4 linked regions of the Homo sapiens genome follow. The gene in region 1 interacts genetically with each later gene. Each region holds a gene or a part of one and is shown in the gene's direction. Other genes may lie near its edges.

Evidence for each region. A genetic interaction does not mean that the proteins touch.
Region 2: changes in EMC6 (region 1) and NUTF2 together harm fitness more than expected from each alone (negative genetic interaction), as found in Homo sapiens cells (one large-scale study listed by BioGRID).
Region 3: changes in EMC6 (region 1) and SREBF2 together harm fitness more than expected from each alone (negative genetic interaction), as found in Homo sapiens cells (one large-scale study listed by BioGRID).
Region 4: changes in EMC6 (region 1) and FDPS together harm fitness more than expected from each alone (negative genetic interaction), as found in Homo sapiens cells (one large-scale study listed by BioGRID).

The regions. Positions count from the first base shown.
Region 1 is NC_000017.11:3,667,363-3,670,165, forward strand, and holds EMC6 (ER membrane protein complex subunit 6), read left to right. Parts: upstream 1-1,449; 5' UTR 1,450-1,537; exon of another isoform or gene 1,538-1,650; intron 1,651-1,695; exon of another isoform or gene 1,696-1,735; 5' UTR 1,736-1,784; coding exon 1,785-2,117; 3' UTR 2,118-2,303; downstream 2,304-2,803. Other genes in the region: TAX1BP3 (tax1-binding protein 3), read right to left, coding at 1,126-1,164.
Region 2 is NC_000016.10:67,849,933-67,853,432, forward strand, and holds part of NUTF2 (nuclear transport factor 2), read left to right. Parts: intron 1-3,500. UniProt on the Homo sapiens protein: Mediates the import of GDP-bound RAN from the cytoplasm into the nucleus which is essential for the function of RAN in cargo receptor-mediated nucleocytoplasmic transport.
Region 3 is NC_000022.11:41,871,105-41,874,604, forward strand, and holds part of SREBF2 (sterol regulatory element-binding protein 2), read left to right. Parts: intron 1-2,693; coding exon 2,694-2,915; intron 2,916-3,500.
Region 4 is NC_000001.11:155,315,366-155,318,865, forward strand, and holds part of FDPS (farnesyl pyrophosphate synthase), read left to right. Parts: intron 1-1,488; exon of another isoform or gene 1,489-2,575; coding exon 2,576-2,656; intron 2,657-2,803; coding exon 2,804-2,926; exon of another isoform or gene 2,927-3,031; intron 3,032-3,299; coding exon 3,300-3,388; intron 3,389-3,490; coding exon 3,491-3,500. UniProt on the Homo sapiens protein: Key enzyme in isoprenoid biosynthesis which catalyzes the formation of farnesyl diphosphate (FPP), a precursor for several classes of essential metabolites including sterols, dolichols, carotenoids, and ubiquinones.

The DNA.
Region 1 (2,803 bases):
TCAAGCTGGTGCAGGGAGGGTGAAGCTTAGGACAGCTGTCAGCTGGTCCAGCAATGTTTCCTCCTGGCCCAGGCCTGAGCCAGTGCTCTAAGCTCAGCCTCACTTGTCGCCTTTATCAGTGGCTTCTCTGCCTCCACCCACCTGATTGCTGGAGCTTCTCCAGCACACCCAACTGAGATAACACACCCAGTCCCTATGGCTCCAGGGCGGGGACTTTCGCTTGACCTACTGCCCACCGGGCAGGCATTTCTTCTCATTCTCTGAACGCTGTCGGGAGGTAGGCAGGAGACCTGAGTCTTTCCTGAGGTGGTCTTTTCTGGCTGAGCACTTCTCTCTGGGACTCCCCACCTCTGTCATAGGGTTGTGTCCCTCTGTGACACCGGCGTCTGAGTCTAACGTCCCAGCCTTCCTTCCTCCCTCTGCCTAGTCTAATAGCACCCAGCACCTAAAACAAGCCAGAGGGCGGCCAGGGGCCTAGGCTAGCCCCCGGAGGGTCTACTCAGGACTCAAGTGCCAGGAGGGAGGCCTGGACTTTTTTGCCTTAAGGGCTGGAGACCCAGGAAAAGTTCGAAGAGGAAACGCTCATCGCAGCTATACGAGCGTCCACCCTGGACCAGGCGGCGAGTGGGTTGGAGGAGCAAGGCTGGACAGGAAGGGGGCAGGGGCTGCCACGGCAGGCTCGGGAGAGCCCCACCCCCAGATCTCCCTCCGGGCGGCGGCGCAGGCTGCAGCGGAGGAAGCATTTCCTCATTCCAGAGGCTGCGACTCATGGACGTCGGGATCGGCGCCCGCCCCCAGCAGCTCCCCGTCTGGGGACACGGAGGCCCGGGAAGGGGGCGCTTTTCCAGGCTCCTGCAGCCAGGCCTTTCCCCGTGGCCCTCCCCGCCCTGCGCACGCAGTCTGGGCTCTGTCCAGGGTCTCGGGAGGCTCTCGGGTCCCGGCCATCCCTGTTTCGTGGCTGGGGGAACTGCGGCCCGCTCCGGCAAAGCGGGGACCCGAGCCCTTGCCGCCGGTTCGCAGGAGCCCCGGGTTCGATGCTCTGTCAACCTGCTTGGGGTGTCCGTTTCCCGCTCTGCGAGGTGGGGTCAGGCCAAGACGAGGAGGAGCCCGCGCAAGCGCACTCACCACCACGGCGGTGACCGGCTGGCCCGGGATGTAGGACATCTCGACCCTGCTCTGGTCGCCCAGCGCCGCTCCGAGAAGCCGGCAGCAGAGTACCCGCGGTCGCGCCCTCGCTGCTTAACAAAGGCCGCCCCGCTCGGCCCGCCCCCTCATGAATAGTTAACAAACCTCCAGCCAATCACTGGCCGGAGCGCCACTCCGCTTTCGGAAGTCCCTGCGCGTGCGCAGAAAAGCGGGCAGAGGGCGGAGCGTGTCCGGGGCGCCCACGGCGCAGGCGCGGAGGGCGGGGCGGGATCTGGGCGCGTGCGCAGCCCGAGACCTCCCGGCAGTCTTCCGAGCAAGATGGCGCCGCGGGCATTTCTTCCACTGCCCGTCTGAGGGAACGCTAAGTAGTGTGTCCGGCGCCGTGTTCCAGGTAACTGGGCCACCGTGGCCGGGGAACGCAGACGCGCCACCACCTCCCGGCCGGCCCGGACCCTCAATCTCCTCGGCGTCTTTGGAAGATCCGAGGCCCAGGACTGGTGCCAGGTCTCGGAAGCTCCAGGGGGAGGGGGCGGCGTGAACCCAACTCACCGAGCTCCGGGCGCCACTTGTAACTTGGTTTTCTCCGCAGCTCCGCGTTGTTCCGCGAGAAAGCGAGAGGCCGAGCCCGGGCTGGTGCGATGGCCGCGGTGGTGGCCAAGCGGGAAGGGCCGCCGTTCATCAGCGAGGCGGCCGTGCGGGGCAACGCCGCCGTCCTGGATTATTGCCGGACCTCGGTGTCAGCGCTGTCGGGGGCCACGGCCGGCATCCTCGGCCTCACCGGCCTCTACGGCTTCATCTTCTACCTGCTCGCCTCCGTCCTGCTCTCCCTGCTCCTCATTCTCAAGGCGGGAAGGAGGTGGAACAAATATTTCAAATCACGGAGACCTCTCTTTACAGGAGGCCTCATCGGGGGCCTCTTCACCTACGTCCTGTTCTGGACGTTCCTCTACGGCATGGTGCACGTCTACTGAAATGGGGGCCCGGGGGACTTTTTTAAAAAACCAGATCGGGAGGACTGTGGCCAGCAATTAACACCATGTAGACTTCCTTAGTTCTTAAGTGGTTGAATTCGCTGCTTGTTCTGTAACGTTATAAATAATTTATATCTGAAGACGGAGAGCCTGTAATATTCTTCAGATTAAATGAAGCGTGAGACACTTTGTGGAGTTCTTTCCTGCTGTAACGCTTAGGCTGCCACTGATGCAAAATCGCCGAGATTTGACTCCTGGAGAGCAAGGAATGGGCCATAGCCTTGTGTTAAGTCCTTGTATTTACACATAGGCCATTCAGAAACGGGCCCTAAGGGCCTACATAAGGAAAGAACTTATTAACATCCTAAGAAGCAGTAACAGTTAATATGTATTAAGAGCTCCCTGGGCCGGGCACGGTGGCTCATGTCTGTAATCCCAGCACTTTGGGAGGCCGAGGTGGGCGGATCACCTGAGGTCAGGAGTTCAAGACCAACCTGGCCAACATGGCAAAACTCCGTCTCTACTAAAAATATAAATATTAGCCGGGTGTGGTGGCGCGCGCCTGCAATGCCAGGTACTCGGGAGGCTGAGGAAAGAGAATCGCTTGAACCCTGGAGGCAGAGGTTGCAGCGAGCCGAGATCGTGCCACTGCATTCCAGCCTGGGTGATGGAGCAAGACTCCGTCT
Region 2 (3,500 bases), on another chromosome or scaffold:
CAGGCGTGAGCCACCACGTCCGGCCTTATTTTTATTTTTTGCAGTGATGTCATCTCCATATGTTGCCCAGGCTGGTCTCAAACTCCTGAGTTCAAGCGATACTCCCACCTCAGCCTCCCAAAGTGCTGGGATTACAGATGTGAACAATTGCCCAGTGATCACAAGGGTTTTCTTCAGGGACAAAAAGATACTTTTCCTTCTCCAACGTTACTCAAGAGTAGGAGGAATTCAGGTCCCTCCCTCTCATTCCAACCTCTAGAAGTTCCCTGTAACTTCTTTTTTTTTTTTTTGAGATGGAGTCGTACTCTGTCTCACAGGCTGGAGTGCAGTGGCGCGATCTCGGCTCACTGCAAGCTCCGCCTCCCGGGTTCACGCCATTCTCCTGCCTCAGCCTCCCGAGTAGCTGGGACTATAGGCACCCGCCACCACGCCCGGCTAATTTTTTGTGTGTTTTTAGTAGAGACAGGGTTTCACCATGTCAGCCAGGATGGTCTCGATCTCCTGACCTCGTGATCCACCCGCCTTGGCCTCCCAAAGTGCTGGGATTACAGGCGTGAGCCACCGCGCCTGGCCGTTCCCTGTAACCTCTTTGTCTGAGGTCAGCTAGCCATTGCTAGGCATCCTGATCCTGAGAATTCGTTAAATGTTTCTGGAACTTGGCGGGCCATCTAGGTCTCAGATATAAGAGAAGTGGCCTGAGGTTCTCCAGGATCTATCTGCATCCTCTATTCATGTAGGGCTGACTTGGAAGTGGGACCTGGCATGCGGTGGTTGGGATATTGCCGCACAAGGATGAGGCAGGATACAAGATGCCTCAGTTCTCAATTAGCTCAAAATTATGTCCCTTCGTGTATAGGAGCCTATCTGCCTATCACTATTTTTTTTTGAGACAGAGCCTCGCTCTGTTGCCCAGGCTGGAGTGCAGTGGTGCAATCTCAGCTCACTGCAACCTCCGCCTCCTGGGTTCAAGCAATTCTCCTGCCTCAGCCACCCGAGTAGCTGAGATTACAGGTGCCCACCACCACACCCAGCTAATTTTTGTATTCTTAGTAGAGATGGGGTTTCACCATATTGGCCAGGCTAGTCTTGAACTCCTGACCTCAAGTGACCCACTCGCCTTGGCTGCCCAAAGTGCTAGGATTACAGGTGTGAGCCACCGCACCTGGCCGAGCCCATCTCTTCTCTCTGAGCCATGTCTTGTTTTATTCCGTTGCCTTTGGAGTTGGTGGTTTGGGAGGGGAATAATTACTTAAGAGAGACACAGAATAGGCAGGGTGCGGTGGCTCATGCCTGTAATCCCAGCACTTTGGGAGGGCGAGGTGGGCGGATCACGAGGTTAGGAGTTGGAGACCAGCTTGGCCAATATAGTGAAACTCTGTTTCTATTAAAAATACAAAAATTAGCTGAGCATGGTGGCAGGTGCCTGTAATCCCAGCTACTTGGGAGGCTGAGGCAGGAGAATCGCTTGAACCAGGGAGGCGGACGTTGCAGTGAGCCAAGATTGTGCCACTGCACTGCAGCCTGGTGACAGAGTGAGACCCTGTCTCAAAAAACAAGGGAGACCAGAATTTTGTTTTTTTTATTATTATTATACTTTAAGTTCTAGGGTACATGTGTACAACTTGCAGTTTTGTTACATATGTATACATAACGCCATGTTGATGTGCTGCACCCATTAACTCGTCATTTACATTAGGTGTATCTCCTAATGCTATCCCTCCCCGCTACCCCCGCCCCAGGACAGGCCCCGGTGTGTGATGTTTCCACCCTGGAGACACAGAATTTTCAAATTTCAGAACAAGTCTGGGCGCAGTGGCTCACGCCTGTAATCCCAGCACTTTGGGAGGCTGAGGTGGGTGGATTACTTGAGGTCAGGAGTTCAAAACCAGCCTTACCAACATGGAAAAACCCTGTCTCTACTAAAAATATGAAAATTAGCTGAGCGTGGTGGTGCATGCCTGTAATCCCAGCTACTCAGGAGGCTGAGGCAGGAGACTCGCTTGAACCTGGGAGGCGGAGCTTGCAGTGAGCTGAGACTGTGCCATTGCGCTCCAGCCTGGGCAACAACAGCGAAACTCCATCTTGAAAAAAAAAAATTCATAACTAGAAGCCACCTTATATCAAAAATTCTAGGATTCAGCACCAGCTCTGAAGCTGGAGCATTGCTTGAGGCCAGGAGTTCAAAACTAGCCTTGTCAACATAGCAATACCCATTTCTACAAAAGAAAAATAAAAAAATAGCCAGTGTGGTTGTGGTGTTGTATACCTGTAGTTCCAGCTGCTCAAGAGGCTGCAGGAGGTCAAGGAACCGTGAGCTATGATCATGCCACTGCACTGTAGCCTGGGGACACTCTAGCAAGACCCTGTCTCCAAAAAAAAGGCTAGGTTTCCCTTAACAAAACACTATTATCTTTTTTTCTTTTTTTTTTTTTTTCACCCAGGCTGGAGTGAAGTGTCACTCTTGCCCAGGCTCAAGTGCAGTGTCGCAGTCTCGGCTCACTGCAACCCCCGCCCTCCGGGTTCAAGCAATTCTCCTGTGTCAACCTTCCGAGTGGCTGGGATTATACCCGCCTGCCGGTATAATCCGGCTAATTTTAATATTTCTAGTAGAGATGGGGTTTTGCCATGTTGGCCAGGCTGGTCTCAAACTCCTGACCTCAGGCGATCCGCCCACCTCAGCTTCCCAAAGTGCTGGGATTATAAGCTTGAGCCACCATGCCTGGCCTTTTTTTCTTTATTTTATTTCTTTATTTTTTTATTTTTTGAGACAGAGTTTCGCTCTTATTGCCCAGGCTGGAGTGCAATGGCGTGATCTCGGCTCACTGCAACCTCTGCCTCCTGGGTTCTAGCGATTCTCTTGCCTCAGCCTCCCTAGTAGCTGGGATTACAGGCATGTGCCACCACGCCTGGCTAATTTTGTATTTTTAGTAGAGATGGGGTTTCTCCATGTTGGTCAGGCTGGTCTCGAACTCCCGACCTCACTCAGGTGATCCACCCACCTTGGCCTCCCAAAGTGCTGGGATTACAGGCATGAGCCACCGCTCCCGGCCCTTTTTTTCTTTCTTTTTAAAGTTTTTCTTAGGGTACATCAGCAGCCTTTTTATTTTATTTTATTTTATTTTAATGAGATAAGGTCTCACTCTTTTACCAACAGTGAGACCCTGTCTTTAAAATAAATTAAATAAATAGAAACCAGCCAGGTATGGTGGTGGGTGCCTGTAGTCCCAGCTACTTGGGAGGTGAGGCAAGAGGATCACTTCAGCCCAGAAGTTCAAGTCTGCAGTGAGCTGTGATTGTGGCACTGCTAAAGTGCAGTTGGTGCCATCTCAGGTCACTGCAGCCTTGACCTCCTGGGCTCAAGCAGTCCTCCCACCTCAGCCTCCTGAGTAGCTGGGACTACAGGTGCGCACCATCACGCTTGGCTAATTATTATTATTATTTCTGAGACGGAGTCTCACTCTGTCTCCCAGGCTGGAGTGCAGTGGCACGATCTCGGCTCA
Region 3 (3,500 bases), on another chromosome or scaffold:
GTTAAATCTCTATATGCTGAGTAGGTATGGGAGGGTCTATAGCACAAATCAGTCAAATTGTAAATGTCACCCCTCTTAGTTGTTTTTCGCTCGAAAAAGTATTAGCAATGTGTGTTCGATGTGGGAGTACTGGAGTCTACAAGGAGGTAGAAAAGAATAGCAGAAGGACCCTCTATTCTTGGCTAATAGCTCCACACAAGACCATTCACCTCTTAGATCCTGCTGATGACTTCTGAAGGACCCTAGGGCCACCAGGCAGGGAAGGGCTCCAAGGTGAAGAACATGGAAGGTACCCCATCCTTCAGTTGTAGGTTCTTAGCCACTTTCAGCATCCTATAGCATGAGAATCTGATAGAGTAAATGGTGATTAAAATTTAGAAGCACTAGCTTTATTCATAAAATCCAAGAACTGGAAGCAACTCAAATGTCCATCCACAGGAAAATAAGCACATTGTGATATATTCATACAATGAAATTATGCCTAGCAATTAAAAAACAGAACTGCTGACAGGCACGGTGGCTCACGCCTGTAATCTCAGCACTTTGGGAGGCCAAGAGGGGTGGATCACCTGAGGTCAGGAGTTTGAGACCAGCCTGGCCAACACGGTGAAACCCCATTTCTACTAAAAATACAAAAATTAGCTGGGTATGGTGGTGCATGGTGCATGCCTGTAATCCCAGCTACTCAGGAGGCTGAGGCAGGAGAATTGCTTGAACCTGAGAGGTGGAAGCTGCAGTGAGCCGAGATCGCACCACTGCACTCCAGCCTGGATGACAGAACGAGACTGACTCTCAAAAAAAAAAAAAAAAGCTACTGATGCATGAAACAACATGGGGCTGTCCCTCAGAAATAGTGTGTCAAGCCACCGGGCGCAGTGGCTCACACCTGTAATCCCAGCACTTTGGGAGGCCGAGGTGGGTAGATCATGAGGTCAGGAGATCGAGACCATCCTGGCTACCATGGTGAAACCCCGTCTCTGCTAAAAATACAAAAAATTAGCCGGGCATGGTGGCGGGCACCTGTAGTCCTAGCTACTCGGGAGGCCGAGGTAGGAGAATGTCGTGAACCTGGGAGGTGGAGCTTGCAGTGAGCCAAGATTGCGCCACTGCACTCCAGCCCGGGCGACAGAGCAAATCTCCGTCTCAAAAAAAAAAAAAAAGAAATAGTGTGTCAAGCCAAAGGAGTTCATGCTAATGAGTCCATTTATATGAAGTTTAAAAAGAGGCAAAATGAAGCTATGGTGCTGGAATTCAGAGCGGTGGTGACAAGGAGGGGAGGGGCATGCGGGGACTTTCTGAGCTGGTAGAAATGGGCTATATCTTGGTCTGGGTGGTTATATACATTGTGTACATATGTAAAATTCATCAAGCTATAAACTTAAGATTTGTGGTTTTTATTGTGCATGACGTACTTATTGGCAACTAATGAAATTGGGCACCTTTTTATTTATTTATTGGCTGATTAGATATTGAGGCCATTATTTAAGAAATTAAACTAAAATTGGTCCAGGCCCAGTGGCTCACGCCTGTATTCCCAGCATTTTGGGAGGCTGAGGTGGGCAGATCACCTGAGGTCAGTAGTTTGAGATCAGCCTGGCCAACATGATGAAATCCCATCTCTACTAAAAATACAAAAATGAGCCAGGTGTGGTGGTGGGTGCCTGTATTCCCAGCTACTCAGGAGGCTGAGGCAGGAGAATCACTTGAACCAGGGGGGTGCAGGTTGTAGTAAGCTGTGATCACGCCACTGCACTCCAGCTTTTGGGCAACAGAGTGAGACTTTGTCTCAAAAAAAAAAACAAAAACAAAAAAACAGGACGTGGTGGCTCACGCCTGTAATCCCAGCACTTTGGGAGGCCAAGGCGGGTGGATCACCTGAGGTCAGCAGTTTGAGACCAGCCTGACCAACATGGAGAAACCCCGTCTCTACTAAAAATACAAAATTAGCCAGGCATGGTGGCGCATGCCTGTAATCCAAGCTACTCGGGAGGCTGAGGCAGCAGAATCACTTGAAGCTGGGAGGCAGAGTTTGTGGTGAGCCGAGATCACACCATTGCATTCCAGCCTGGGCAACAAGAGCGAAACTCCGTCTCAAAAAAAATAAAATAAAATAAAATAAAGTTAGAAAAAATAAGAGGAGAAAACAGAGATGAAGAATAAAAAGGGGAGACCTCCATGGTTGGCCTATTTACTTAATCAAATGGCTCTTATTGAGAGTGTCACTTCTGCCCTTGAGCTTTTTGATGGCAAAATTGTATAAAGAAATGCAGTAATTTGCTTAATTGTCATTTGAGAGGAAAAAATGTGTCATACACTAGGAGAAAGTTTTCTCTGGTGCCAACTCGTGGTTCACCGTGTACAACTTTAGAAGTGGTTAACAGTTTGACAGCAAAGCAGAAATCATATGACTTGTTTCTGGCATACGTAGATCAAAACTTAAAACATATTTAGCCATGTTAATCCTCTTGTGGTGTAGTTTATCAGCAGTGATTCTTGAAGGGAGGTAGTAACCAAGGTTCCGTGGCTCCTGAGACTTCTTGGGGCCTGATTTGATTAACCCAGGAAGAGTCTCAGACCTCATGAAGTACTGCCAGGTCTGGCAGCACTTGGCCAAAGCGGGCAGGTCTGTGTTGAGGTTGCTTTATGCAGACTAACAAAGGGATCATTCTGCTGTGTACCTGTCCCTATTCTAGACCCTGGTGGGCAGCAGTGGGACCATTCTGACCACAATGCCTGTAATGATGGGGCAAGAGAAAGTGCCCATTAAGCAGGTACCTGGGGGAGTCAAGCAGCTTGAGCCCCCCAAAGAAGGAGAAAGGCGGACAACCCATAATATCATTGAGAAACGATATCGCTCCTCCATCAATGACAAAATCATCGAATTGAAAGACCTGGTCATGGGGACAGACGCCAAGGTGGGTGCCAAGCAAAATTGTGTTTTATGTTCCACCATCTCCCCTCTACCTGTTTTTGCCTCAGGAGCCTAGAGAAGTCCCAGGCTCAAGGTAAGTGAATACAAGACCGAGTTAGAGGTGCTTTTTTATTAAAGCATCTTGGTGTCATGTCAAGATTATAAAATATTAAAAAACATAAGGGACTGGTGAGGGTTGATAAGGCAGTGACCCGCTGAGACCTTTGACTCCTTTGGCTATGCTCTGCAGTGATGGGGACTCCACTGTCAGAGGCAGAGAAAGATGCCTGCCACTCAGTAGTTCCAGATACAGGACTGTGTGTACCTTGGAGTCAGCTGATGGCATAGTTTTAGCTGTGTTTAGGGGTTACCTTTTAAGGAAAAGAAAGAAAAAAGAGGTTGAGTCTTTGACCAGCAACACATAGAGGAAACTGATGTTCCAAATGTTTCTGGTGTTTCAGTGTATGTGTCTTCTAGAAAGTAGGAGATTTTATTTTTAAAACCTATCTATGTTTAAACCCTATTTTGAAAGAAAATTTCATTTTCCTTGCCTACAAATCTGAAAGCTGTACATCCTAAGTAAAAATCT
Region 4 (3,500 bases), on another chromosome or scaffold:
GAAACCCCATCTCTACTGAAAATACAAAATTAGGCTGGGCGCAGTGGCTCATGCCTGTAATCCCAGCACTTTGGGAGGCTGAGGCGGGCGGATCATGAAGTCAGGAGATCGAGACCATCCTGGCTAACATGGTGAAACCCCGTCTCTACTAAGAATACAAAAAAAATATTAGCCGGGCATGGTGGCAGGCGCCTGTAGTCCCAGCTATTTGGGAGGCTGAGGTAGGAGAATGGCGTGAACCTGGGAGGCGGAGCTTGCAGTGAGCTGAGATTGTGCCACTGCACTCCAGCCTGGGCAACAAGAGCGAGACTCTGTCTCAAAAAAAAACAAAAAACAAAAAACAAAAAAAAAATTAGCCAGGCGTGGAGGCACATGCCTATAATCCCAGCTACTCAGGAGGCTGAGGCAGGAAAATCGCTTGAACCCGGGAGGCGGAGGTTGCAGTGAGCCAAGATCGCGCTATTGCACTCCAGCCTGGGCAACAAGAGCGAAACTCCATCTCAAAAAAAAAAAAACACACAAACCATGTCTTCTGCTCAAGCCTGGGTGACAGAGTGAGATCCTGTCTCAAAAGAAAATAATAATAAAAATTAAAACCTGGGTATAGGGCCGGGTGCATTGGCTCACACTTAAAATCCCAGCACTTTGGGAGGCCAAGGTGGATGGATCACGTGAGGTCAGGAGTTCGAGACCAGCCTGACCAACATGGTGAAACCTTGTCTCTACTAAAAACACAAAAATTAGCCGGGTGTGATGGCACGTGCCTGTAATCCCAGCTACTTGGGAGGCTGAGGCAGGAGAATCGCGTGAACCCGGGAGGCGGAGGTTGCAGTGAGCCGAGATTGCGCCATTGCACTCCAGCCTGGACAATGAGAGTGAAACTCCATCTCAAAAACAAAAACCTGGGTATGTATCTAGAAGTGGAAAAACAAAAAAAGGAAATAAGTTATGAAAATAAAAACCATGTCTTGAGCTGGGTGCGCTGGTGTGTGCCTATATCCCTAGATTCTCAAGAGTTGAGACAGGAGGATCACTTGAGCCCAGGAGTTCAAGTCCAACTTGGGCAACATGACAAGACCCTTGTCTCTTTAAAAAAGCAACCCAAACCATGTCTTGAAAAGCTATTTAATGGTCAGACACGATGGCTCACGCCTGTAATCCCAGCACTTTGGGAGGCCGAGGCAGGCGGATCACTTGAGGTCAGGAGTTCAAGACCAGCCTGGCCAACATGGCAAAACCCAGTCTCTACTGAATGAAAATACAAAAATTAGCTGGCCTAGCAGTTGGTGGTGGCAGGTGCCTGTAGTCCCAGCTACTTGGGAGGCTGAGGCAGGAGAATCGCTTGAATTTGGGAGGCGGAGGTTACAGTGAACCCACATGGCGCCACTGCACTCCAGCTTGGGTGATAGAGTGAGACTCTATCTCAAAAAAAAAAAAAAAGAAAAGCTATTTAAGGAACCAAAACATAGTTTGACTGACTGCAAGAAGTATCACAGGGAATGTTAGAGTGTTTTATTAATTTCTTTGTCAGACAAGTGTTTAGGAAACTCTCACTCCAGGCCTAATGCTGTGCTAGGCTCTGCAAATGCTAAGAGGGGGAAGTTACTGTCCCTGCTTCCAAGGAGATCATGGTCTAGTGGGAAACCCGACACGTTCAGGTACCTTCAGATGGGCACTCAGAAGAGTAAGCCCTTAGTTAATGTTTAAAGATGTTTAAAGATGTCTGAGACTCATAGGTCAAAGTCAGATTTCAGTTCCACCTTATTAGACCTGCACTGCTAAGGAGCTGCTTTAGGTAAGGCTGTGTTCCTAGTCACCAGGGTGTTCAAACACAGTGCTGGGGGCAATGTGGGAATAGCCTTCTTTTATTTAGGAAGTAATGTGAAGTCAGTTTCATGAATAGATCTTACTTTAAGCATTCATTGAGGTTTTTGGCAAGAATAGAGTACGGTATATGAAGGTGTTTCCTAATCTCCCTGACACCAGGAATAATCTAGGGCTCATTAGAGATGTCAAAGATCTGTTCTAGTTTCTTAACCTAAAACAAGAGTGTTTTAGTTCCATTTTATAGGCGGGGAGTCTGAGCCAAACATGTTATGTCACTTTCCAAGTCTCCATAGCACAGAAGTCTTCTGTCTCCCCATCCTGACTTTCCCAGCTCATAGGGACTGTCAAAGGCAGCAGCTCTGGCCGGCTGTGATGCCTCATGCCTGTAATCCCAGTAATTTGGGAGGCTGAGGCAGGAGGATCATTTGAACCCAGGGGTTCAAAACCAGCCTGAGCAACATAGTGGGACCCTGTCTCTACAAAAAATAAATTAAAAAAAAAAAATAGCCAGGCATGGGGTATGTGCCTATGGTCTCAGGAACTCAGGAAGCTGAAGTGGGAGGATCACTTGAGCCTGGGAGTTAGAGGCTACAGTGAGCTGTGACTGCACCACTGCACTGGATAATAGTGAGACTCTGTCCCCTACCAAAAAAAAGCAAAACTATATACAGATATAAAGTAGCAGCTCTGTTGCTGATAGAAGGAACAGTAATGAGGAGCCCTGCAGGTCTTATTCCACTCTTTCTAGCTGCAAGCTTTCTTCCTGGTGGCAGATGACATCATGGATTCATCCCTTACCCGCCGGGGACAGATCTGCTGGTATCAGAAGGTAATGTGGGCAGGAAAATAGCAGTGGGTATGGGGACAGGCCACAGGGAGGTGGTTATATATGGCCTGGTTGAGGTGTTGGGGTGATGGCTCTTAGTATGAACCGAGACTAGAGATTGATTGCTTGTTTTTCTGTCTGTCATGACAGCCGGGCGTGGGTTTGGATGCCATCAATGATGCTAACCTCCTGGAAGCATGTATCTACCGCCTGCTGAAGCTCTATTGCCGGGAGCAGCCCTATTACCTGAACCTGATCGAGCTCTTCCTGCAGGTGTATTGCAGACAGGGCCCGATGCCCAGAGGGTGCCCATGGTAGCCTTGGCCTCTATAGGACATGCTCATCTAGCTGGTTTCAGGGTACAGGATTGCAGCGTGCCTGGAAGGGAAAGAAAGCGAGGAAGGGTGTTGGGAAGTGGGGTTGTGGTAGTGGCAAGAAAGGGCTTCTCTGTCCTGTGTAATTGGAAGAAAGGGTGATAAAGGACTGTGTGTATGAATATGGGCCTTAAGTTTTGGGGCTTTCTCCCCTTCTGTTGCCTTTCTGATTCTGCCCAGTTGTCAGCTGGTATGGGATGTTGGGCTTGGGATACCAGGGTTTCGCATATCTGGAGAAAGCCTGGCTCATGGACCGTCTTTGTCTTGCTTAGAGTTCCTATCAGACTGAGATTGGGCAGACCCTGGACCTCCTCACAGCCCCCCAGGGCAATGTGGATCTTGTCAGATTCACTGAAAAGAGGTGAGGGGAGGTGAGGGACAGCGCGAACCATGTCTGGACAGCGAGGGAGGGCTCAGGATGTGCATTGCCCTCCTGAGGAGTTTCTCTTCTCCCCTTACTCAGGTACAAATCT